3 separate regions of the Homo sapiens genome follow, and all the other regions are linked to region 3. Evidence: fine-mapped expression QTL. A gene starts in region 3. Each other region holds a variant in brackets. All regions are shown on one strand. Distances are from middle to middle. Region 1 overlaps POLR1E (RNA polymerase I subunit E). Region 2 overlaps FBXO10 (F-box protein 10). Region 3 holds the start of POLR1E (RNA polymerase I subunit E).

Region 1 (8,179 bases), 20 kb after region 3:
GGATTCTGTCTTTATGGCCTGGAGCATGAATGTGCTGCTACCTTTTGCCAAACCTCCCTGAACAGTCATGTTGAGGGGTCTCTCCAGTTCTTCTGTTTATGTCTTCCTTAGGATGATGGAGATAGCCAAAGCCATGAGGCTGAAGATCTCCAAAAGAAGGGTGTCTGTGGCCGCCGGCAGTGAAGAAGATCACAAGCTGGGCACCCTGTCCCTCCCGCTGCCTCCAGCCCAGACCTCAGACCGCCTGGCAAAGCGGAGGAAGATTACCTAGACGCATGCTTTCCAGACAGGGCGTTTTGGCTGCATCACAGCCACTGGCTGGTCCTATTCATTTCCATTTTTATGTATGTTTTGAAAAGAAAAGGTCCGGGGATGGTGGCTCACACCTGAAATCCCAGCACTTTGGGAGGCCGAGGCAGGAAGATCATTGAGCTCAGGAGTTTGAAACCAGTCTGGACAACATAGGGAGACCCCATCTCTACCGGAGGAAAAAAAAAAGAGTCAGGCCTGGTGGTGTGCGCCTGTAATCCCAGCTACTCGGGAGGCTGAGGCAGGACGATTACTTGAGCTTGGGAAATCAAGGTTGCAGTGAGCTATGATTGTGTGGCCACACTCCATCCTGGGTCACAGAGTGAGACCTTGTCTCAAAAAAGTAACATAAGGAAAAAAGAAGCCTTGCTTTAGCACAGGTATGAAGCCAGAAGCCAGCATCTCAACTGTGCTTGTCTTATGCAGAAATATAAAGCGATGGCCAGGTTGGACTTCATCTCTCTCCTTTGGTATTATTGCTGTGATTATAAATGGCAGATGTTTCTCATGTTGGTTCACCTGTGGGGATTTGGGAGGGTGGGTCCTCCCTCCCAAAGTTGACTCACCAGGCTGAGTCAAATCTAATGGATGAAGGTTTCCAAAGAGAAATGTGAAGTGGCGTGCTTAGGTCTGGAAGGGCCAGTGGAGTACGCAGTGAGGAAGGAGGATCTGGCCCAGCACGCCTGGGAAATGACACTTCAGGCTTTATCAGAAGCTAACTGGGTCACCAGTGTGATGGGGGCTGCCACAGGCCAGTAGGATACAGCCTGTTGTAATGGGGTGGAGCCAAGTCAGAGGAAGTGGTGACCCAATTTCTCTGTCTGGTGGAGGCCACATAGAAGGCAGGGGTCAGCTATGAAAGCCACACTTTGAAGAGGATGAATCAGTCAGTGTTCAGTTCAGAAAATCAATTGCTCTAGGTATCTTAAGAAGAATGGATTTTAATGTATGGATAAGGTGCTGTAGAATTGTGACAAGGGCCAGAGGACTGGGAATCGGAAGGTTGCCGTCAGGACTGCTGAATTCAAGAACACACTGCCGGGGTTGCCATCGGGGACTCAGAAGCCACTTCTGCTCCATAACTGCTCCTGGAATTCATGCAGCTGAAGATTCAACACTGGGCTGCTGATTTCAGCTACCCATGCTTTCTTCTTTTTCTTTTTATTTTTTTGAGACAGAGTCTTGCTCTGTAGCCCAGGCTGGAGTGCAGTGGCACGATCTCGCTCACTGCTACCTCCGCCTCCCATGGCCTGGTTCAAGCAATTCTCCTGCCTCAGCCTCCCGAGTAGCTGGGATTACAGGCATGCGCCACCATGCCCAGCTAATTTTTTTGCATTTTTAGTAGAGACAGGGTTTCACTGTGTTGGCCAGGCTGGTCTTGGACTCCTGACCTCATGATCCACCCGCCTTGGCCTCCCAAGGTGCTGGGATTACAGGTGTGAGCCACCGTGCCCAGCCTACCCGTGCTTTCAAAGGTCCTGTATTTCCACCACTTTGTCACCACAGACAGCCAGAAGGTCAAGCAGCTGGCCTCCACCTTGCTTCCTTCTGGTGCGCATATATAGGAGCCTGATTAGCATGTAGAATCCTAGCAGAATGGGAGTCTTTGAAATAGGTTTCAGCTCACCAGCCTCTAGTTACAGGAGGCATTCTAGAAGGACATGAGTGGATTATAACTGCCAACCAATTGTATGTGCCACTGAGGAGATGGAGAAGCTGTGTCCAGAGCGGTGCTATAAGGACAGGAGTGTGACACAGGAAGGCTTAGGTACGTGGCCTGGGCCCAGTCTCACATCTCAGGGTCCTGCTTCAAGTGGGAGCAGTTGAGATCTGTGACACTCAGCACCTGGGAGGCCGGGTCAGTGAAGGGAGGGAGACAGAACTCAGCTCCTCTGAGAGGAGAAGTTTACACAGCACCTGGGGCCCTCCATTTGGGAGTCACAGTGGAAAGGAGTCTTGGCTGAGCTTTGGGGCAGGTGCACCTTATTTTCTTTGCGGTCTGGGATGCCCTCAGAGCTGTGCTCCTCTGCTTTGTCCCCATCTGCCTCTGGCCCTGGGTAGGAGGCACTTGGAGCATACTTTGTCTTCCTTCAGCAGAGGTGTGGGCAGGGAATCTACTTGTCTCTTGTTTTCCTTTAAGCCGTTGTGAAAATCAAGTATGTGACTCTTCCTTGGAAAAAATAATCTCTCAGAAAAGGACTTCTAATACATCCTCAGGGTAGAATGTGTTTCCGTGATTACTTTTTTTTTTTGAGATGGAGTTTCGCTCTTGTTGCCCAGGCTGGAGTGCAATGGCGTGATCTTAGCTCACTGCAACCTCTGCCTCCCGGGTTCAAGTGCTTCTCCTGCCTCAGCCTCCCGATTACAGGCATGCACCACCATGCCCGGCTAATTTTGTATTTTTAGTAGAGACAGCGTTTCTCCATGTTAGGCTGGTCTCAATCTCCTGACCTCAGGTGATCTGCCCGCCTCGGTCTCCCAAAGTGCTGGAATTATAGGCGTGAGCCACCACGCCCAGCCTTTTGTGATTACTTTTAAAATTCAGCTGGGTTTGACACTTGGAGGCTTAATTTCTGGGAATGACTGGACACAGCATGTGGCTGGGACCCTCTGAACAACCTCTGACCTAGTGGAGAAGCAGGTGGTAATGACTGTAGGTATGGATAGGGAAAGACTAGGCGGGCAAATACTTGTCGTGTGTCAACAGGTGTATTTTGCTAAATGTCGGGGACACATTCCAAGAGGCTAAAAAGCAAATTTCTGTACATTAGGAGATTTGTGAGTCCTTAGGAAAGGCTCAGAAGAGGGCTCCACCTAGCACAATACCTGACATAGAAAGTGGTCAGTGTCTGCAGAATGAGTCGGCATGAACCGTACTTTCCTTGGCAGGGTTATTAGGTGGTAAATACCTGCAGAATAATGGGATTGTACTAGGGTTTCTTCTGGCTTTAGAAACCCATTTGTTTACTAATAGATTCCCAGAGGATACCTTGATCTCACCAAGCTATTTGCCAGAATGTCTCCTGATGGCCTCATTGAAGAAAGGGGGACTATGAGCCAGATGCTGGTGCCCTGAAGATTTGTAGTTTGTGGGATAGTCTTAACTTGGCAGGGTTTGATTAACAGAATGAAGTCTGTTCCTTAGAGGGAAGTCTTTGCTTGCTGCCCTGACCTGCTGGACACTGTTAATTGGGATGAGGTCAAAGAAGGCATAGTTACCACATTTGCAGGAGACCCTAACCTGGAAATAGTAAATTACATAACATTCTTTCAAGTGTCTCCTCTTTTAAAAAAGTATTTTGATATAGTTTCACACAGAGAAAACTTGCAAGAACTCTTGTATATCCTTTACCCAGATTCTCCAACTGTCAATACTTTGTCCCATTTACTATTTGCTTTAGACATTTTGAGATTTGTTTTTGAACCATTTGAGGAAAACATCCTACCCTTCTACCCATAAGTACTTTTTCAGTGTGTACATCTTAAGAATCAGGACTTTCTCTTCCATAACCACAGTCCATCAGATGCAGGAAATAAGACAATAATGCAATACTATGACTTAGCCCACAGTTCATGTTCAAATCTTACCGATCACCATGCCTCTTTGGTCTTGCTTAATCTGAAACAGTTCAGATTTTTATTGGACTTTCTCGGCTTTGACATTTTGGAGAGTGAGGTGTTATTCTTTAGGGTGTCTGTCAGTTTACATTTGGGGCTTTCCCGTGATCGGATTCAGGATTTACATTTTTGGCAGGAACAGCACAGAAATGATGCTGTGACCCACATGCATCACATTAGGGGCCCATGATGTGGGACTGCGCTTTCCTTGCTGCTGTTAACTTTTATCAGTTAAGGTTGTGTTTTCCGCATTGTGAAGATACTGTTTTTCCTTTTAATAAGTAATTTCTGGAGGGATACTTTGAAACTAAGTATCCTGTTCCTCATCAAACTTTCACCTACTAGTTTCAGCCTCAATTGATGATTCTTGCTGAATCAATTACCAAGATGGTTGCAAAATGGTGATTTTGCAACATTATCGTTTCTTCTAATTATTGGCATGCTCTTATAAGGCAGTTTGTTTTCTCGACCTTAGAAGTTTTGTGTTCATTTAGTTATTGGCATAGACTCAAGAGTCTTGTGTTCTATGTGGAGTCTGTTACTGTGATTCCTTGTGATGTCCAGATTGTATGTATTTGGCCAATCTTGAGTTCCTTCAGGAAACCTCCTGGATCCCATCATTTTAAGGGTGCTTCCTTACTTTCTAGCATGAGATATTCCAGGCCTACCTTGTACTTTCCCTGCTGCAGCCCTGGAGTCAGTCTTTTGTTGTGGTTTTGCTTTTTAGAGACAGGGTCTTGCTCTGTCGCTCAGGCTGGAGAGCGGTGGTGCAGTCAGCTCACTCCACTCCTGGGCTCAAGCCATCCTCCTGCCTCAGCCTCCTGAGTAGCTAGGACTATAGGCATGCACCACCAC[G/A]CCCAGCTTTGAATCCGTCTTTTATCCAAGGAGCTCTGGCCTTTTAGCGGAGAATAGCGGATGACATGAATGATGGGCCTGAAGCAGGAAGTGAAATGCAATCCTGACCACCAGACAGATGGGATCTTCAGCTGCACTCAGGCAAGAACTAGGCTCGGGGTAGAGGTGACAGCTCTGTGATGGGGAGCTCAGGCTGCACCAGGAGGCCATGCTAGGTTTGACTTCATTTAAAAAGCACACTACACAGCTGACGGGCTCAGGAGCTCCATGAAGGGCACCCTGCAGAGGTCTGGAGGGTAGTGAGAAGGTACCAATGGGGCGAGCATGCCTGTGTCGGGAGGCTGATCCGGGTAGGAATAAGCCCAGCATGCCCCACATGAGCCCACCATGAGGAAGCATTTGGAGAGAAAGCTTGCTCTGTGTTGTCAGAAGGGAGATTGAAGAAGGTGGGCCCAGGGGTGCTGTTGACAGTATAGGCTCATGTGCTGTTCCAAGGCTCATCTCTGGCTCTTGCCTGGTCTGGCCATACCATGTCCACATCCGCTGTACTTAGGACTTCCTCTGGGCACCAGGGCAGTGGCCTCACCAAGACCTGGAGGCCTAGATGATGAAATCATACTGGTGTTTGCTGTGCTTGTACATTCCCATCAGCAGACATCCGTGTTTGGGCCTGACTGGCCAACAGGGAAGTCCAGGGAGGACACAGTATAAGCTGCTTGGGTAGAGGTCAGCTGGAACCTCTTGTGAACTCTGCACCAGAGTGAAGCCTTCACCCATGGCAGTATTCCTGTGGGTGGGAGGGAAGCTACTGCAGACTGAAAGCAAATGATTCCAAGGAAACACAGTACTTTAGAGAATTCTCTTTAGATCCGTGAGTGCTGCCCATGGAGCTGGGCCATTCCTCCTGAGATACAGGACAGGACGCCTCAACTCTGCTTCTTTGGGCTCTCCCAGACCTACCCAGGCCACTGGAGTGAGTCTAGAGAAATGACCAGGGTGGTGAAGAGACACCCTGCAAACTGGCACATACGAGAGGAACCCAGGAGGGCAGCAGACCCCAGGGGGATGAGGGTGCTGCCTGCAAATCTCTGAAGAGTTGTCACAGAACAGAGTGAAGAGATGTCCTTTGGGGGCCCCAGGAGGTAGAGATTCTGGGAATGAGGTTGGGTTTGTTTCCTCATTTGTCTGCCTGTCTGTCCGCCATCCATCCAACACTTAGTGAGCTTTGCTCTGTGCTGGGCATAGAGAATCAACAGTGAACAAGATGGGCAAAGTCCCTGCCCTCAACCAACAGACTGAAAAGAGAGGATTCAGTGCCATCTGCAGGTGGCATGTGGCTGAGTGGGCACAGGAGCATGGAGAAGGCGCAGTTAACTGTTATTTGTAGAGACAGGGGAAGGTGTTCCATAGAAGTAGTGACTAAGGAGCTTCTGAAGGAGGGGTAGAATTTAGCGAGGGAGAGAGACTTTGGCTCAATTAAGTAAAAAGTTAGATGGGCTCAGTTTTCTTGGGCAAGTCTGGCCTGTTGTGCAAAGCACCCGCACTCCCTGACTCTTCCCCAAACACAAGAGCTAAGGTGGGTGTTCTGTTCCTCCCACTTCTGCCTCCAAATGACCTGGAGGGAATTTGTGTCCCAGCTGTTCCCTTCCCTGCCACCTTTGCTCCAGGTAATAGCCCTCCTCACACCTCTCCACATCTGATAGGGAACTTTCCCCTGCCGGATCTCAGGAGCATCAGCACTCCCAGCCTCCAAAATGGGGACAATGAGCTCACCAAGTCAATGTTTAATACATTATTGACAGAACTTACGATGATTTTAGGTGGCTCAGGGATGTAGTAAAGTACTTGTGTTCTGCTGGTTAGGCTAAGCTGAAGTGACAAATGGCCCTCAAATGTCTGGTTTCAACAAAAGTTCATTTGCTTTTGTTGAATGTCTGGCACATGTCTGTCAGCCAGCAGGCACCTGGGACCCTGCTCCGGGTTAGCTTCACCCCGGGACTCGGGCTGCCATGTCTGACACGTGGTGGTCCACTGGCAGAGGGACACACGATCGGGGCAAGTTCTGCTGGCCCTTAAAGCTTCTACCCAGAAGTGACCATTAACCACTTCTGCCTACATTCACTGGGCAAATCAGGTCCCATGGCAACGTGAGAGGGCATGTACTCTCCCTGAGGGGCAGCAAACAGTAACTACCAAAACCAATGAATATTTTCATTTTAATAGTTTAATGTATGTTTATAGTAATATAAAAAGTCTTTTCAGTGTGTGAAAAAAAGACATGTTGTAGGATGGGATCCTGGAATGGAAAAAGGACATTAGGTAACAAACTAAAGAAATCTGAGGCCAGGCACAGTGGCTCATGTTTGTAATCCCAGCACTTTGGGGGATTGAAGCAGGCGGATCACTTGAGCCCAGGAGTTTGAGACCAGGCTAGGCAACATGGCAAAACCCCGTCTCTACAAAAAAATACATAAATTAGCCAGGCGTGGTGGTGCATGCCTGTAGTCCCAGCTGCTCAGGAGGCTGAGGTGGGAGGATCACCTGAGTGAGCCTGAGGAGGTCAAGGCTGCGGTGAACCATGATCACACCACTGCACTCTAGCCTGGGCAACAGAGTGAGATCCCGTTTCAAAAAGAAAAAAATCTGAATAAACTATGGACTTTAGTTAATAATGTGCCAGTACTAGTTTATGAATTTTTACAAATGTACACTGATAGCATAAGATGTTAATAACACAGAAACTCGGGGGTGGCAAGGGTGATATGGGAACTCTAGTAATCATCTGTCTGCTCAATTTTTCTGCATATTTAAAACTTCTAAAAATTAAGTAGATTTAAAGAAAAAAGTACTAACTTCTCAGGTGACATATGGATATAGCAAAAATTCTAAGATGCTGAGTAAGTGAAGTTGGGGAAGTGTGCTCCGGGGTCTGAGGTCCCTAAGCTGACAGTCCAGTGATCCATGGGGACGGCCTGTTTCTGTTGTCTTCACAGAGCAGGCAGGAGTGGAATTATAGCCCGATTGAGCCCTTCAGCCCTATATCTGGAACTGTCACAGGAACAAGCTGACCCAACAAGATGGCCCCAGGATTCTCCTGTCTCCTTCAGAGGAAACAGTGCTGGGCCTGGCCAGCTGGGAGCCCCAGTATATGCCCAGACTAAGGAAAGGCTTCCAAAAGTGCCTTTTTTAAAATATAGAACTTTATTTTGGTTACTGAGGTTTTTGTTACTGTTGGTTCACAGAAAAGTCATTTCTTAGAAAATAGTAACGGCAGCATTTTTTACAGCGACTCACATTGGGGCCACCAAACAAGTGCAAAGGACAGTGCCAGGGATAGAAGAGGCCAGTACTCTTGTGCCCAGTGTTCTCAGGGAGAACCCAGTGCTCCTGGCTCCCT
Region 2 (8,179 bases), 40 kb after region 3:
CTGTCCTTAAGACATGACACAACTCCTGTCTTTTGCTATTTTAAAAGGGGATAAAGCCTTCTGCTTTGCTAACCCCACGGGGTCAATCTGGACTACAATGTGATTTGTAAGAGGCTCTTTGTTCTGGGAGGGCCTGGGTGACTGTGGCCTGAGAGTGCCTGTTCAGATGAGGTCTTTGAGGCACAGGGAAAGGCAGTGACCTTCTCAGGACCCACAAGCTGGAGATGGAACCTGGGCTTCCTGCCTCCCCGGCTGGGTTGGGAACAAGCTCCTCACCGTAGATGGTATTTCCTTCTATGAGGCCTTTGCCTTCGTCTCCCACAACCACACCATCTGAATAGCCAAAGCAGATGAGGTTACTCCTGAGAACGGGGATCCCTCCACGGCGGATGTCCACACCTCCCCACTGATTCTCACGGATGACATTTTCTATGGAGAGAAGCAGAAAAGAAGGTCAGTACCCAAGGGCCAGCTCCAGTGCTGGCAAATAGGACTTGGACAGTTTTGATCAAGGCTACTCCAGACCAGAAGGCCCTGGCCTTACCCTGCCAGCAATTAGCACTGTAAATCTTGTCTGCTGTCTGATGTTTCAGGGACTTATCTGCTGACTCCTTTCCCCAAGGGCAAGGCTTGTGTCTATCTTGTGCACTCCTATCTCCCCGGCACCTACTATACACCCAATGGCCTTGAGGACTGATGATTAAAAATGAACTAGTTTTGGCCAGGCATGGTGGCTCATGCCTGTAATCCCAGTACTTTAGGAGGCCAAGGCGGGTAGATCACTTGAGCCCAGGAGTTCCAGACCATCCTGGGCAAAATGGGGAAATCCTGTCTCTAAAAAAAAATACAAAAAAAATTAGCCAGGTGTGGTGGTGCGTGCCTGTAGTCCCAGCTTCTTGGGAGGCTGGGTGGGAGGATCACTTGAACCCTGGAGGTCAGGGCTGCAGTGGGCTATAATCGAGCCACTGCACTCTGGCCTGGATGACAGACTGAGACCCTGCCTCAAAAAAAAGAATAAACTAGCTTTGGTGAGTGACACTGGTGTCCAAAAAACCAACCAACCAAACAAAAAGGAAACAAAACAAAGAATAGGCCGGGTGCGGTGGCTCACGCCTGTAACCCCAGCACTTTGGGAGGCTGAGACGGGCGGATCACCTGAGGTCGGGAGTTCGAGACCAGCCTGACCAACATGGAGAAACCCCGTCTCTACTAAAAATACAAAATTGGGCGTGGTGGCACATGCCTGTAATCCCAGCTACTCGGGAGGCTGAGGCAGAAGAATCACTTGAACCTGGGAGGCGGAGGTTGCAGTGAGCCGAGATCGCGCCATTGCACTCCAGCCTGGGCAACAAGAGTGAGTGAAATTCCGTCTCAAAAAAAATAAATAAATAAACTGGCTTTAGAGTCCTCAGAGGCAGAATGTGGCCATTTACCCACAAGCCTGTGAGAAGGCGCTAGCCTCACCTGCAATGGCTCAGGAGTCTCTGTGTGACTGGCCTCTTCCTGTCTCCATGTCCCCACTGCAGGCCCCTTGTGCACCACACTCCAGTCCCACAAGCGATGTCCACTCGGCCATGCCAAGTCTGTTCTCACAGGCGGCCCTACACGGAAGGTTCTTTCCCAGCTCCTCCAGCCACTCCCACTCAGGGTCTGGTTTCCTTGTCACCTTCTCAGAGGGCTGCCCTGACCACACAATCCCAAATGCCTACCCAGTCCCTCTTTTGCCTTAATTATCCATAGAGCACTTGTCACCCTCAGATGGGATGTTTTTTGCTCATATACGTAGGCTTTTATTTATTTATTCGCTTCCTCTCCTAAAATGTCAGTGGCTGACAGCCTCGTTCACTGCTGCACTTGTAGCTCCTGGAACACGGCCTGTATACCACACGTGCTCAATCCATGTCTGATAAGTTCAGTCAGGGGGATTCCCTGGACCAGTATTTGCGGAATCCCTTTCATATCCCAGGCCTGGCTCTGCTCTGTGCTGAGGCTACATTGATGTACCAGATGGACTTGACCCTCACCTTGTGGAATTTACCACTTTATAACAGAGGAGACGGACACCACAAACCACTAAGAAATTAAGTCAAAGGCCCTAGAGAGGAGGCATCCTGGGTATAGTGAGTGTATCTGTGTACAATGGGGAAGTCAGGGAAGGCTTCCCTGAGGAAGTGACAGTTAAGCTAAGACCCAAAGGATAAGCAGGGGTTAGCCGGGCGGAGGTTTCCAGAGCAGGCAGAGGTCCGCACAAAGACCAAGAGGAGGGATTTGGACAGGTGGTTGGGCATCAGTGCTTCTGAAACTGTTCTGTGAGCCACCTTGTGAGGGCCTGTCGGCTCTGGGCCTGGAAGGAGCAGACACCCACTCTGTGTTAGGCCCTCCTGTAAGAAGCACAGCCACCATGCAGCTGGCGTCCCTGAGCTCCAGCCCACCAGTCAGAGAAAGAGGCCATAGTCTGTGGGGGTAAAGGAGCAGTGTGAGGTCCTGAAGCTGGGGGGTGACGCCAGGGGACCTTGGCCTGGCTGCCAGGTGCCAGGCAGTTCCCATCCGTACCTGTGATGAGGCCTTTGCCGTTCTCATTCACTGCTATGCCGGCAGCACGGCCCTTGAAGATGTGGTTCCCGCTAAAGTGGAAGGAAAACAAAACAAAGAGGTGAGCCCAGGGCATCAATGTCATGCTTCCAGGAGACTGCCTTCTTTCATGGAAACCCTGTCTCTACAAAAAATACAAAAAAATTAGCCGGGTGTGGTGGTGTGCACCTGTAGTCCCAGCTTCTTGGGAGGCTGGGGTGGAGGATCACTTGAGCCTCCCTATGGCTCAAGTCCACAGGGGCATAAAAGCATTTCCTAAAGTCCCTTTATAAGCCAGGCATATAGAAATGTTTAGTTGTCACTGGGACAGCTTGACCAAAAACTAAACCCCCAACTATGCTATACACGCACAATGATATCCAGTTCACTGTAGCCTCACTTGACTGTCATCTACATATATACCCATGCATATATATATACATTTTTTTTTTTGAGGTCTTGCTCTGTTGCCCATGCTGGAGTGCAGTGGCACAATCTCAGCTCACTGCAACCTCCACCTCCTGGGTTCAAGCGATGTTCGTGCCTCAGCCTGGATTACACGTGTGCGCCACCACATCCAGCTAATTTTTTGTACTTTTTGTAGAGATGGGGTTTTGCTACGTTGCCCAGGCTGGTCTCGAACTCCTGGCCTCAAGTGACCCATCCGCCTCAGCCTCCTAAAGTGCTGGGATTACAGGCATGAGCCACCGCGCCTGGCCTTATATGTATTTTATCCAACCCTCAAATGTTTGAACCAGAAAATGTTTACAATTTTTTTGTTTAAGACATGGGTTCTCGCTATGTTGCTCAGGCTAGCCTCAACCTCTTGCACTCAAGTGATCCTCCCACCTCAGCCTCCCAAGTAGCTGGGACTACCAGCATGAGTAACTGAGCCCTGGCATATTTTTACTACAAATCTCACCTCCAGAAAGGATCCGTGGCCACCTGGAGAAGTGTGTGTATGTGTGTACATGGGGCAAGCAGAATAAAGATACAGGAGGGATGAGAAAACACTTAGAAGAAGGGGACAGATCAGTGTACCAAGAGCCCAGGATGGGATATTAACTGCAGATGAGCACAATTTGAGTCCTGTGCTTCTCTGCATCCAAGGAAAAAAGAGAAACATATATAACATATAAAAAGACAAAAAATATAACTTTCTGTGGCAAAAATAGATCCTATGGTTTGTCTCATCCAGGCCATTACAGGGATCTTAAACTTCATTCCGTATCCTGCTCCAGACTCTTATCTCTCATTGCAAAGAAACAAAGGAAAAAAGCACAACCTATTCTCTCAAGATGACTATGTTTTAAAAACCCAACACTGATCTA[A/C]TTATGATATTCCTCACCCAAAACTCTTTCATGGTTCCCCAGCATCCCCAAGGTAAAGCCCAGACTTTTCAGCTTGGTGTATTAGTTTCCTATTGTTACTATAACAAATTACCACAAACTTGGTGGCTTAAAACAATACAAATTTCTATCTTTCAGTTCAGGAGGCCAGGAGTTCAAAATGGGTTTCACAGGGCTAAAATCAAAGTGTCAGCAGACCTGTGTTCTATCTGGAGGCTCCGGGGAGAATCCACTCCTCATCCTTTCCAGCTCCTAGAGGCCGCCTGCACTTCTTGGGCTGTGGCCTCATCACTCTGACTTCTGCTTCTGTCCTCACATCTCCTGCTCTCTTATTTATTTATTTTTTAAAATATTTTATTTATTTATTTATTTATTTATTTATTTATTTATTTATTTATTGAAATGGAGTCTCGCTCTTGTCACCCAGGCTGGAGTGCAGTGGCACGATCTCGGCTCACTGCAACCTTCGCCTCCCGGGTTCAAGCGATTCTCCTGCCTCAGCCTCCCAAGTAGCTGGGATTACAGGCACCTGCCACCATACCTGGCTATTTTTTATATTTTTAGTAGAGATGGGGTTTCACCGTGTTGGCCAGGCTGATCTCGAACTCCTGACCTCAAGTGATCTGCCCGCCTCGGCCTCCCAAAGTGTTGGGATTACAGGCATGAGGCACCGCCCCGGCCCCTGCTCTCTTAATCTAATTCCCCTGCTTCCTTCTCATAAGGGCCTGTGGTTACACTGGGCCCACCTGTATCATCCAAAATAACCTCCTTTCATCTTTCTCCAAAGTCCTTCACTCAATCAAATCTGCAAAGTTCCTCTTGCCTTGTAAGGCAACATATGCACAGGGTTCAGGGACTAAGACATGGACATCCTTGGGGCCATTATTCTGCCTATCATGCTTGGCATTCAAGGTCCTCTGCCGTCCAGCAACAACCTGCCTTTGCACTATCCCTCTGGTATCTCGTGTCCAAACACACCACATTTCTCACCATTTTCTCAGACATACCCTGAATTTCACTGCCTCTGGCCCAGAATGCCTTTTCCCTGGCCATAAAATCCTATTTATCTTTCAAGCACAACTCAAATGTCAGCTCCCTGACATGCTCAGCTGAGATCACGGCTGAGTTCCTTGGTCAGTCTGCATGAATGCCTAGTAAAGTGCTCATTTTGGTGAGTCTTCCATCATGGCTGTGTGAGTGTGTGTCCATCTCCAGCATAAGACTGTCAACTCCATGGGGCAGGCAGGGACTGTTCTTGTACATGTTGTATATCACTGCCCCCTTATATAGAGTGGCTGGAATGTGTGTTCAATGAACAGCACACACACATACAAATACACACTCTTCTGTTCAGGCAATAATGCAGAAGAAGGGAAAGAGCTCTATGACCACTAATTGTTTTTAGTAAGCTGTCTGTAACAGTGAAAAATAGGATTATATTCCGTAATTTTTGAACCAGCAATTAGGTCTGGTTCAAAAATTATGGCATATCGAAATACTGGAATATGGTGAAACTTTCCAAAGTGATGAATGTAAAGGCCATGCATGCAACAACATGGAGACAAAGTACCTATGGAATAATGCTGGGGGAAAGCGCTCTGAATATACTTGCTGCCCATTAATGCCAGCTATTCTCCTAAAGCACAGACATAACTGTGTGAGTCTTCTGCTCAGAGCCTTTAATGAGTCCCCGCTGTGTAGACAGAATAGGCTCCCCCGCCTCAGCTTGGTCTACATAAGGCCTTCCTCATCTGGCCCAAGCCTTTCTTTCCATCATTCCTTTCCACTCTGCTGTGTGGCACAGATGGTCTGCCGCAAGGACGTCAAGGGTCACACTGCAGTGACCACAGGGCCCAAGATATTCTGGGACCATCCCAATTTAAAATATTCTATAGCACTGTCACACCATGTCAGATTTTTTCTCAAGCCACCGTCAACGGTTTGCTAACCCCTGAATCTGCTGTGCCCTGCTGCCTTTGCTCATGCTGTTCCATTACTAGGAACATCCACCGACCCCTCCCTACCCCTATCTCCATGAGTCCAAGTCTTACCCATATTCCAAAGTCTGACTCTGATGCTACCTCCTAAATGAGGCCTTCCCACATCCTCCTAGTCAGAATGAGTCTCTCCTTCTGGTACCACTCTGACAGCATTTATCACAGTCTGCCCCATACTAGAGCTGGGATGGCAGACAGGGTCCCAGGACTGCCACTGCTGCCTCCCACCTATCACTTATATCAGTCCCTGACCACAGCATGCTTTTGTGCTGAGGCCAGGTGCAGCACCAGGATGTTGACACAGCACCCCCAGGCACCACTAGCAAGTAACTGAAACTGTTAGGTGAGCTGAAATCTCTGTTCCATCCCTGCCTGGGGGTACTTCTGTGCCCATTTCTCCAGGCTAGAGTAAGCTCCCAGGGAGCAGAGCCTGCCCATGTTGGAAGTGCTCAGTAGTGACTGCCGAATAGAACGCCTACACGGAGTTCACTGGAAGGGCACATAAACACAAAAGCCGCTGTGTTACTGGGGTGGGATGATGAGTGAAGTCTCTTCTCTGCTTGCATCTGTACAGTTGTTTCCGTAAAGAGTGTTTTCAAATGGAGGAGAGACAGGGAGGAGGTTAACAAAGATGAAGGAGGGAAACAGCAGCACACACCTCACAACGGGGTTTCCGTGGTACAGGATGTAAATGCCAGCCTCCTTATTGGAAAAGATTTGATTGTTCCGGATGATGCCTTTCCCATTGCCAAGGACGACAATGCCAGAGCGAAGGCCATGGTGGATCTGGTTACACTGCAAGTGAAAATGAGACACCACAGAAGCCAGATCAGACACGTCAGCGAAGCAGAGTGCCCAGGTGCCGCCCACACCTCCGCGGCAGGATGAACACAGTGGAGAAAATGACGTCACTGTAAGAGCCCTAGCCCGTGACAAAGGGAATGGGTCACACTGCCGCCCTGCCCTTCCTGCACCAGTACACACATGAAAACCTGTAAGGGAGACTATGAAGACTGGAGTCTTCGCTGCCCAGCCTCTTAGGAGGGCTCTTGGTCTTCACCTGCAAGGCAGGCTACTGAAAGTTTCAGAGCCTCTAATGAGTCCCCTAAACACATAATCATTTGGCCAGGCCATAACTTCTAGGGTCCAGGGAGGCCATCTCTTGAGGAAAGGCAGCACCCCAGTGCAACCAAATGTTGGCCAACTGCAGTCCTAAAGGGGCCACATCCAGAGAGGGGTCACAGTTGTTTGACTTCTAGTCCTTTCTCATTTAGGGAGGGCCAGCGGAAGATGCAGACACTGGGGGGCCAAGCTGTCCCATGGGGCATAAGGTCTTAGAAGGTGTATGAGCTACAGAATGCCAAGAGATATCTTTTTTTTTTTTTTTTGGTAGAGACAGGGTTTTGCTTCATTGCCCAGGCTGGTCTTGAACTCCTGGCCTCCAGTGATCCTCCCATCTTGGCCTCCCAAAGTGCTGGGATTACAGGTGTGAGCCACCACACCCGGCAAGATATTCATTTCTAATATCTCTTTGTGCGAATGGGAAAACAGGCCCACGATTATATAGTACATTTGTGGAAAAGCCAGATCTGAAATCTAGTTTTTCTCTTTCCCATTCCAGTTAGTTGCTTTTGCACAGTGACTTAATATTTTTAGATTAGAATAATAATAAAATTATCTCACTCTAAGTTAATTTATAGCTGAAGTCCAATTCTATACTTTGTAAATTGGGAAGTTAGCTGTATCTCTTCCAAAATGATTTCGCAGAAATAAAGTTCTAGTTGGCTTTAAAGTGTTTCGTGTGCAAACTCTCCTTATTCTTACTCTTTCCAGATTTTTCCTGAAGGATTTGGCAGGCTCATCAGAGCAACCACTGCCTAAGAGAAGTCCCGCACAGGGCTGAAGAGCTCCAAAAGGAGTATGCAGCAGCATTTCCATCCCTACACCCTTTCACAACGCCAGGACTAAAATATACCACTCCCTTCCCCCTCCACCTGCTATCCCTCTGTCCTCAGAAGGGCAAACCCCTCATCTCTCTAGCCAGAGGGGCAATAATTTCCTAAGCCAAAGCCATGCATCAACCACCAGCTGCATGGTAGAAACACAGTGAGGGGAAGGGGTTGGCAGGAGACACTGGCTAGCTGTGTGTATTTTCTTTTTCTTTTTTTGAGACAGGGTCTCGCTCTGTTGCCCAGGCTGGAGTGCAGTGGCACAATCATGGCTCATGACCATGCCATAGTTATGGCAGCCATGACCTCCCAG
Region 3 (8,160 bases):
CCAAACTAAATTTCCAAAAAAAATTATGTGGTAAATTTTGCCTGTGATTATCCACGATTTGAATATAAAAGAGGCCACCTGGCCAGGTGTGGTGGCTCACGCCTGTAATCCCAACACCTAGGGAGGCTGAGGCAGGTGGATCACTTGAGGTCAGGGGTTCGAGACCAGCCTGGCCAACATGGTGAAACCCTGTCTCTAACAAAACTACAAAAATTAGCCGGGCGTGGTGGTGGGCACCTGTAATCCTGGCTACTCAGGAGGCTGAGGCAGGAGAACTGCTTGGACCCAGGAGGCGGAGGTTGCAGTGAGCCCAGATCACACCACTGCACTCCAGCCTGGGCGACAAGAGTGAGACTCCGCCTCAAAAAAATAAATAAATAATTAAATAAAATAAAAAAATAAAAGAGGCCACTATAGGTTTTTGCATTTTGGTTAATGCCTATGTAGGGCTCCCTCCATCCTGCCCCATCCCACCTCCATCCTGCCCCATCCCAGTTACACAGGCACGTATGTATATGTACATGGTGTGTATAGGTGTGTCTTTTGAATAACTGTTAAATAATTAAACAACACAGGGGTATACTATGATCCCCTTCCCAGCTGCCTGACCATCAACACTTTGCTTCCACGGATAGAATCTCCGTCATTTGGAATTCTTGCCTGTGGTAATTCTAGGAGTTTTTGCTTCAGTGGGTGTGTTGTACTCTTCACTCTTTGTCCTCGCTACAAAACAGTCAATCCAGGGGACTTGCACATAATCTGTCTGACTGGCAAATATGTGCCTTAAAGGGGAATCAGTCCGGTATAACAGTGATTCCTAAACTTCAAGTGCACATGAATCACCTGCAGATCCTGTTGCAGAAGATTTGATAGGGTTGGAGATCCTATATTTCTAACAAGTTCCCAGGTGCTGTCGAGGCTGCTGTTTCCATGGACCACACTTTGAGTAACAAGGCCATACAATGTGTTCCTATATCATGAGTAACAAGGCCATATAATGTGTTCCTATATCACAAGATACTTCTCTTAAGAACTATACTTGGCTCATTGTAGCCACTGTTATCTTGGTCACCTTTAACTTTGATTTAACTGTTCATATTTTCATTCAACCAAAAAACATTTATAGAGTCTGTTATGTGTAAACCCTATGCTAGTTGATTTCAACCAATATTACCAAACATCTTTGAGTTCCAGTCCCTGTGCTAGGCTTCCAAGATTAGTGATAATTCAGGCCCATTCTTTGCCCTGTCATTCATTAATTCATTCCATATTTATTGAGGGTCTAGTATGTTCAGGATTTGGAGATAAAGCAGTGATCAAAACAAACATAAATTTGTTTATTAACCTCCAAAGTGTTTATTGTGAACCCCAAGTAAGTTTAGTGAGGAAACAATCAATGGGTGAGACAATCACACAATTAAGCTCTTCTTTCTTCATCCTTCTTTCTTCTTTCTTCTTCTTCCCTTTTCCTTTCCTGAACAATTCAATCCAAAATCATGAGGTGGGGTCAAGCAAGGTAGCCTTCTAAGGGAGGAAAGGCTATGAGAGCTAAATGCAACACATGATTCTTGACAGGACATTTTTGCTATAAAAACATGATTGGGCCAGCTGCAATGGCTCACGCCTGTAATCCCAGAACTTTGGGAGGCCAAGGTGGGAGGATCACTTGAGCCCAGGAGTCTGAGACCAGCCCTGGCAACACAGTGAGACCTAGTCTCTACAAAAAATTTTTTTAATTAAGAAAAAACAAAACAAAACTGAGTGTGGTGGCACACACTTGTATTCCCAGGTTGTGGTGAGAGGATCACTTGAGCCTGGAAGGTCAAGGCTGCAGTGAGCCCTGGTTGCAACACTGCACTCCAGCCTGGGTGACAGAGTGAGACCCTGTCTCAAAAAACAAACTAACAACAAACGTTGGGACAATGGGTGAACTTAAATGGGATGTGAGGATTACATGGTGGTAATGTACCAGTGCTAATTTCCTGATTCTTTTCTGTTTAATTTTTTTTTTTTTTTTTGTCGCCCAGGCTAGAGTGCAGTGGCACCATCACAGCTCACTGCAGCCTCTGCCTCCTAGGCTCAAGCAATCCTCCCACCTCAGCCTCCCGAGTAGCTGGGACGACACGCGTGCGCCACCACACATGGCTAATATTATTTTTTGTAGAGACAGGGTCTTGTTATGTTGCCCAGCCTGGTCTCAAACTCCTGGAATCAAGGGATAGAACTGCCTCTCCCTCCCAAAGTGCTGGGATTGCAGGCGTGAACCACTGCGCCCGGCAATTTGCTGATTCTGATGGCTGTGTTGTTATTTAGGGAATGTCTGTAGGAAATACTATAGTCTTCAGGGTTGAAAGGGTATCAGGTTGACAACTTACTCTAAATGGTTCAGGGCAAAAACATTTCTTGCAGTGTTTCTTTACGTTTGAGATTGGGTAATTAGAAAAGCGTGACAAGTGCTCAGGCAAAGGGGCATGCAGGCTTTAGGGTTATTCCTAGGATCCTGGGTGTTGGAGGCGGGTGTTGAGGGTGTGTGGAAGGAAAAGAGTCTTGAAAGAAGGTGATTTGGAAGACAGAGGGGAGTCAACCGGAGTTCTTGCCCTTCAATAGTACGCATCTTTGGGCAAAGGGGGCCTCGGCCAGCGTCCATGCTTAAAGGCCCTGCTTTCGCCTTCTTTCTGCTCTGAAAACTCCCCGTGCAGAAGAAGGGTTGAATCCGCAGTGAAAAAGGGACATGTCCATCAGCTCGGACTCCCTCTTCTATTCCAGTCCAGAATCTCCTGCCCAAAGGCTCCGGGGTTGGCTGGGCTTCTGTTCCATCACCTCAGTGTTGATTGGGCCACAGGTGTGCACGCCACAGCCCATGGCGGGGAGCTGTTTGTCGGACTGTGGACAAAGTTTGTACCTAGAGCTGGATGTCCACGTGGGTGGGTGGGAAGCCCTAGAGAGGGGCGGCTATTCGCCAGCGGCCACATTTAGTTGGGGCTCAAGCAGTTCCTGTCAGAGAATTCTAAATTTGAACTTGGTCCTTCAGGTCTTGGGAAGATGAGTTTGTCACGGTAGGAGAGAGAGACGACACTCTCTTTAGAAGGTGCTGAGCCGGAAGAAGGCTCATAGCAAGCTTAGGCTGAAGCCTTTGGCGCCTCGGGCTCTGGACCTACAAAACCCAGAGTGCACGCGAGCGCTGAGCCAATCAGGTGCTGCGCCTCGGCCAGTCAAGCGGGTGTGTGGCACCTTGTGGGCGGAGACCACGCCTCTCTACGCGGGGGGCGGGGACACGCGGCTCGCGCGCTGTGGGCGGTGCCCGGCGGGGCCACGCCTTTTCCGGCCCGCAGCGCGGCCTGGGCTCCCGCGTGTTTAAAAGTGCGCTTGTGGCTGCTGCTGTCTTAACTCCTGTGCTTGGCGGACAGACAGGCGAGATGGCGGCGGAGGTGTTGCCGAGTGCGAGGTGGCAGTATTGTGGGGCGCCCGACGGGAGCCAGAGAGCTGTACTGGGTAAAGACTGCGGAGCTGGAGCAGTGCTCCTCTAACCCTCTCCCCTTCCGTCTCGGTACCTCAGCTGTCCTCTCGCCCTCCGTTGGGCTTCTCCCCAGCGGGGCCGGGACCCCTCTAGTCTCCACCACTCCCCTGGGCTCTGTCAGGGCTCCCCTGTCCGTCTTTCTGTCACTACCTCCCAGCCAGATTGGGACATCCCACTCACCCGCTCCCCAGAGCTGTGTCCAGGACCCTGCTGACCCCCTCACCCACCAGGTCTCCCGCCTCCCCCATTTCCCTCTCTTCACTGGGCAGGGGTTCCTTCTGTCACTTTAGGTATGTACCAGGCCTCTGCTGTCAGCCTCCTTCCGCGAGACATTCCCTCCTGTCACAGCCCCTCCCCAGGGTTCTCCCACCTCCCTACCTCCTCTTCTCAGCTGGCCCCGGATCTCCTCCAGTTCCCTTTGGGTCAGGACCCGAGCTTCCTTGCCATCCCCATTCTGACACTCCCTCCCAGTGACAGTCTAGTCCCACCGTACATTGTGTGGTACATTGTGTGGCCTTCTGCTCTCATCTCATTCTTGGGCTGCACTCTTACAGTCCAGTTCTCCAACGGGAAGCTACAGAGTCCAGGCAACATGCGCTTTACCTTGTATGAGAACAAAGATTCCACCAACCCCAGGAAGAGGAATCAACGGATCCTGGTAAGTGAAGCAGTTGCCAGCTGTCTCCACTCTGCAGGGCTCAGAAGGCCCCTGGGAGTGGGTGGATGTGGGAGGGAGTGAGGGGAGAAAAAGGGGAGTAGTAGCAAATGGAGCTTTGAAGAACTCTGATGCCCAGCAGCCTGGGATGTGGGGACAGGCTCCATCTTTCATTCATTTGTTCTTTCAACAAGCATTTATGGAACCTGCCCCTCTGCATCCCTGTGCTGCAAGCTTCTAGGAAAACAGCCAAATCAGGCCTAGCCCCACTCAGAGTTCATACTCTAGAGCAGGGTTTCTCAACCTCAGGACTATTGACTTTTTGGGCCAATAATTCTTTGCTGTGGGGGCAGCATCCCTAGTCTCTACTCATTAGATGCCAGTAGCACCAGAGTGGATTTCCCTGGATTGAGAACCTCTGCTCTAGAGAGATGAGAACTGGCTGTGAGGGACACTTTTACACAAAGCTCTGAGGCCACGTGGGGAAGAGTACAGGGCAGAGTGAGCTCAGTGGGAGGAGAGGTCTCTGCCAGAATGCCTTCCTTGGTGAGGTCATGTTGGAGCTGAGCCTTGAAGGCTGGAATGAGGGTTTGGCAGTCAACGTTTGGTGTTTCGAGTGAAAAGGATAGTGAGGACAAATGCAGAGAAGCAGGAAAGCTTGCTTATGATTGGGGAGTGAATCAGCCATGGTCCTGAGAGTATACAAAGAACAGGCCAAAGAGAGATTGCTTACAGAATCACTTTGTTGCATACCTTTAAGTGCCAGAAGCCCAGGGCCTCTCTCTCAAGTCTTGTGGCAGAATTCCCCCAAGAGCTTTTCATACCATTTAGAAGCTAGCACCATCTGAGGCTTCTCTTCCAGAAGTCGTCTTGCTTCCCCTGCAGGGACACCCCATATTCCCTTAGAGATAGTGGGGCTGGATCATCTGCCAGAGATGAACTAGTTCTAATCCATTGTGAGTCTGGATTCAAAAGCCTCAGCAAATGTAGAAAAGAGAAATGATGCTTAATACCTTTCAACATTGGTTGTAAATGGAGTTTCCCCTCTCTGCATTTTAGGCAGCTGAAACAGATAGGCTCTCCTATGTGGGAAACAATTTTGGGACTGGAGCCCTCAAATGCAACACTTTGTGCAGGTAATGGCAGGGGAAGGGACAGTGGGAAGGGTGATGGGGTTGGGAGTGGTGGCAGCACTGGCACTGCTGTTTCCTGTCTGTTTTAAGGGTAGCAGGAGCCATCTAGAGAGGTTTACTAGGTGATCCCTGTGTTCCTATTAGACCCAGAGCCCTTCCCTGCACGTGTAGACGTTGCTGGAAAGGAAAGATAACTTGAATTTCCTAAAAACCTCATTCATTTGTAATCTTGTTTATTTATAGCTGTCTTATTCCAAAAGGCAGGTCTCTCCATTAATTTGGAATGTGTGACTAGTAGGTCAAAGCTTGCGTGAAGTTTACCTGGGAACTAACGACAGGTAAAGAACTTGGTAGTGTTGAAGGCTCTGGACTGGGAAAGAGGAGCCTGGGATTCCCATCCAGCTGTGCTGCTGATTGACTGAGTGGCTGGGTAACTCTGCGCATCACTGACCCCCAGCCTCCCCCTCTGTACAGTGAAGATTGTCCAGCCTGAACTGTATCACTCTCGGGGGCTGGCATGATGCAGACAGGGCCCTGTGATGGTACCCAACAATGAACTACAAACTAGGCCCTTTCTGAGCCCCGGTGGACCATACTCCAATAGAGGAGAGGTCAGATGGGTGTATAGGTGCTGAGAACTATTAACCCTGCACTCTCCCCTCTCAGAGATGCCCTAGTTCCAATTGGTCTCCTCCCCGTTTACTTGATTTTGCCTCCATAAAACTGTTGTGCCATAAATTGTAGTGTAATTCTAGGTTCGTACACCCCAAAAGAGTTTTCCATTACACTACCGCAGTGAGCCCAAATGTGATCAACTATCAGAATCACCTAGTAGCTTTTTTTTTTTTCCCAGAACCACCTCATATCCTCCCATCCCATCCTATCCTTTCCTATTCCCTCTCTATGCAGAGAATTGCTGTGGGGTAGGGGTAGGGGAGATTATTGTTACCCATGAGTAGATGATGCATTCCTCAGGTGTGTGGGCAGAGAGAAGGTTGAGAACTTTTGAACAGGAAACAGGGCCAGGTGCAGTGGCTCACGCCTGTAATCCCAGCACTTTGGGAGGCTGATAGGGTCAGATCACCTGAGGTCAGGAGTTCGAGACCAGCCTGGACAACATGGTGAAACCCATCTTTATTAAAAATGCAAAAATTAGCCGGGGATGGTGGCGTGCGCCTGTAATCCCAGCTACTCAGCAGGCTGAGACAGGAGAATTGCTTGAACCCGGGAGGTGGAGGTTGCAGTGAGCCGAGATCATGCCACTCCACTCCAGCCTGGGTGACAGCAAGACTCTGTCTCAAAAAAAAAAAAAAGAAAGCTGTACAAATAATGCTTTTGAATAATCCATTGTTATTTGTATTATTTCTTCTTTATTCAGGCACTTTGTGGGAATTTTGAACAAGACCTCTGGCCAAATGGAAGTATATGATGCTGAATTGTTCAACATGCAGCCACTATTTTCAGGTAGGTCCCAGTCATGAAAGCTGACAGAAATAATGCATAGTTTGGGTTTGCTGGATGAGTTGGCTTGAGTTTTAGATTTATAAAACACATTTTATAGTTATTTTAATTTATTTATTCTGTTTTTTCTGCTTTGTCTGTGTTGAGAAAATGGTTTTTTATATACACACTGTTTTTTGTTTTTTGTTTTTTTTGAGATGCAGTCCCACTCTGTCACCCAGGCTAGAGTGCAGTGGTGTGATATTGGCTCGCTGCAACTTCCACCTCCCGGGTTCAAGTGATTCTCCTACCTCAGCCTCCCGAGTAGCTGGGATTACAGGTGCACATCACCACACCCGGCTAATTTTTGTATTTTTAATAGAGACAGCGTTTTACCATGTTGGCCAGGCTGGTCTCAAACTCTTGACCTCAGGTGATCCACCTGCCTCGGCCTCCCAAAGTGCTAGGATTACAGGCGCTAGCCACTGCGCCCGGCCTAGAGTTTTTTATTCAGCACACACTTATTGATAACCTAATGTACCAGGCACCAAGCTGGGGCTGTGGATGTGGCAGTAAGCAAGACAGACACAGATCCTGTCCCCATAGTGTTTAGAGACTTGAGGTCAGAGGTTCATAAAAGCAATCTGAGCAATGATCAGAGCAGAATATTAGAGGACATGTCTGATATAAAATCTTTTCCATAAAAGAACTTCCTTCATTCTTTTTATTTTTATTTTTTATTTTTGTAAATTACTTTATTTCTTCCTTGATCATTTCAAGGGACTATCTTCAAACCAGTACAAATATTTCATACGTAATACCTGGCCATTTTCTAAACAATCGAGGAGTTTGTTGCACAATAAGCTACCTCACGTCTTTCAGCAAGAAATACATTAAATTTGAAGAGTAAAGACATTACATAATGAACTAGGACATAATTAAAATTTGCCTTAAATATTTCTTTGGGGGAGAGAACACCACACTTCTACTCAATGAAGAGAAACATTTTTACAGTCCAGAGGTCTTTCATTTTTTAAACACCTGTCACGCCATGAATTCATAGGGAATAGGTTCCAGCAGCTCAGGCTGCTTCCCATTGGTTCTCACCAAGTGTGCTTCTCTGGGTGGAGCAGGCTGGCGCTTCAGTTGAACCCAGGTACCTTTCTCTTTTGCTTCTGTCTTTTTCTAATCATCTTTCTTCACCCGTTTCATGAAGCTTTCTCGGCTCTTAGAGTGCTTAATGTGCTCAATACGCACACTAATTCTCTTGGCAAGAATCTTGCCCTTGTTTGTTTACAACAATGCCAGCAGCATGCTAAACTGTAGACGCTTCCAGTTTAGCCATGGTAACACTTGAGGGGCATTCCTTTTTGAACAGTACCCATTCCCTTGATGTCTACGATATCACCTTTCTT

Evidence for each region.
Region 1: its variant is fine-mapped to the expression of POLR1E in whole blood (TOPMed, PIP 0.93).
Region 2: its variant is fine-mapped to the expression of POLR1E in tibial artery (GTEx, PIP above 0.99).

The regions. Positions count from the first base shown.
Region 1 is chr9:37,502,932-37,511,110 of GRCh38, forward strand. It overlaps POLR1E (RNA polymerase I subunit E), which reads left to right. Exons shown (of 12, transcript NM_022490.4): 12 at 112-766. The coding sequence ends at 271. FBXO10 (F-box protein 10) reads right to left here. Exons shown (of 11, transcript NM_012166.3): 11 at 7,961-8,179. Among named protein-coding and RNA genes, the nearest start is that of POLR1E, 21 kb to the left of the region's middle. The variant G/A (reference allele first, on the strand shown) is at 4,783.
Region 2 is chr9:37,522,549-37,530,727 of GRCh38, forward strand. FBXO10 (F-box protein 10) reads right to left here. Exons shown (of 11, transcript NM_012166.3): 5 at 6,576-6,712; 6 at 2,554-2,624; 7 at 277-429. Among named protein-coding and RNA genes, the nearest start is that of POLR1E, 41 kb to the left of the region's middle. RefSeq lists enhancers at 6,423-6,792, 6,893-6,942. The variant A/C (reference allele first, on the strand shown) is at 3,903.
Region 3 is chr9:37,482,632-37,490,791 of GRCh38, forward strand. It overlaps POLR1E (RNA polymerase I subunit E), which reads left to right and starts at 3,317. Exons shown (of 12, transcript NM_022490.4): 1 at 3,317-3,492; 2 at 4,072-4,175; 3 at 5,232-5,308; 4 at 6,684-6,769. The coding sequence starts at 3,417. It also overlaps the pseudogene RPL21P83. RefSeq lists an enhancer at 2,782-3,373 and a silencer at 3,115-3,444.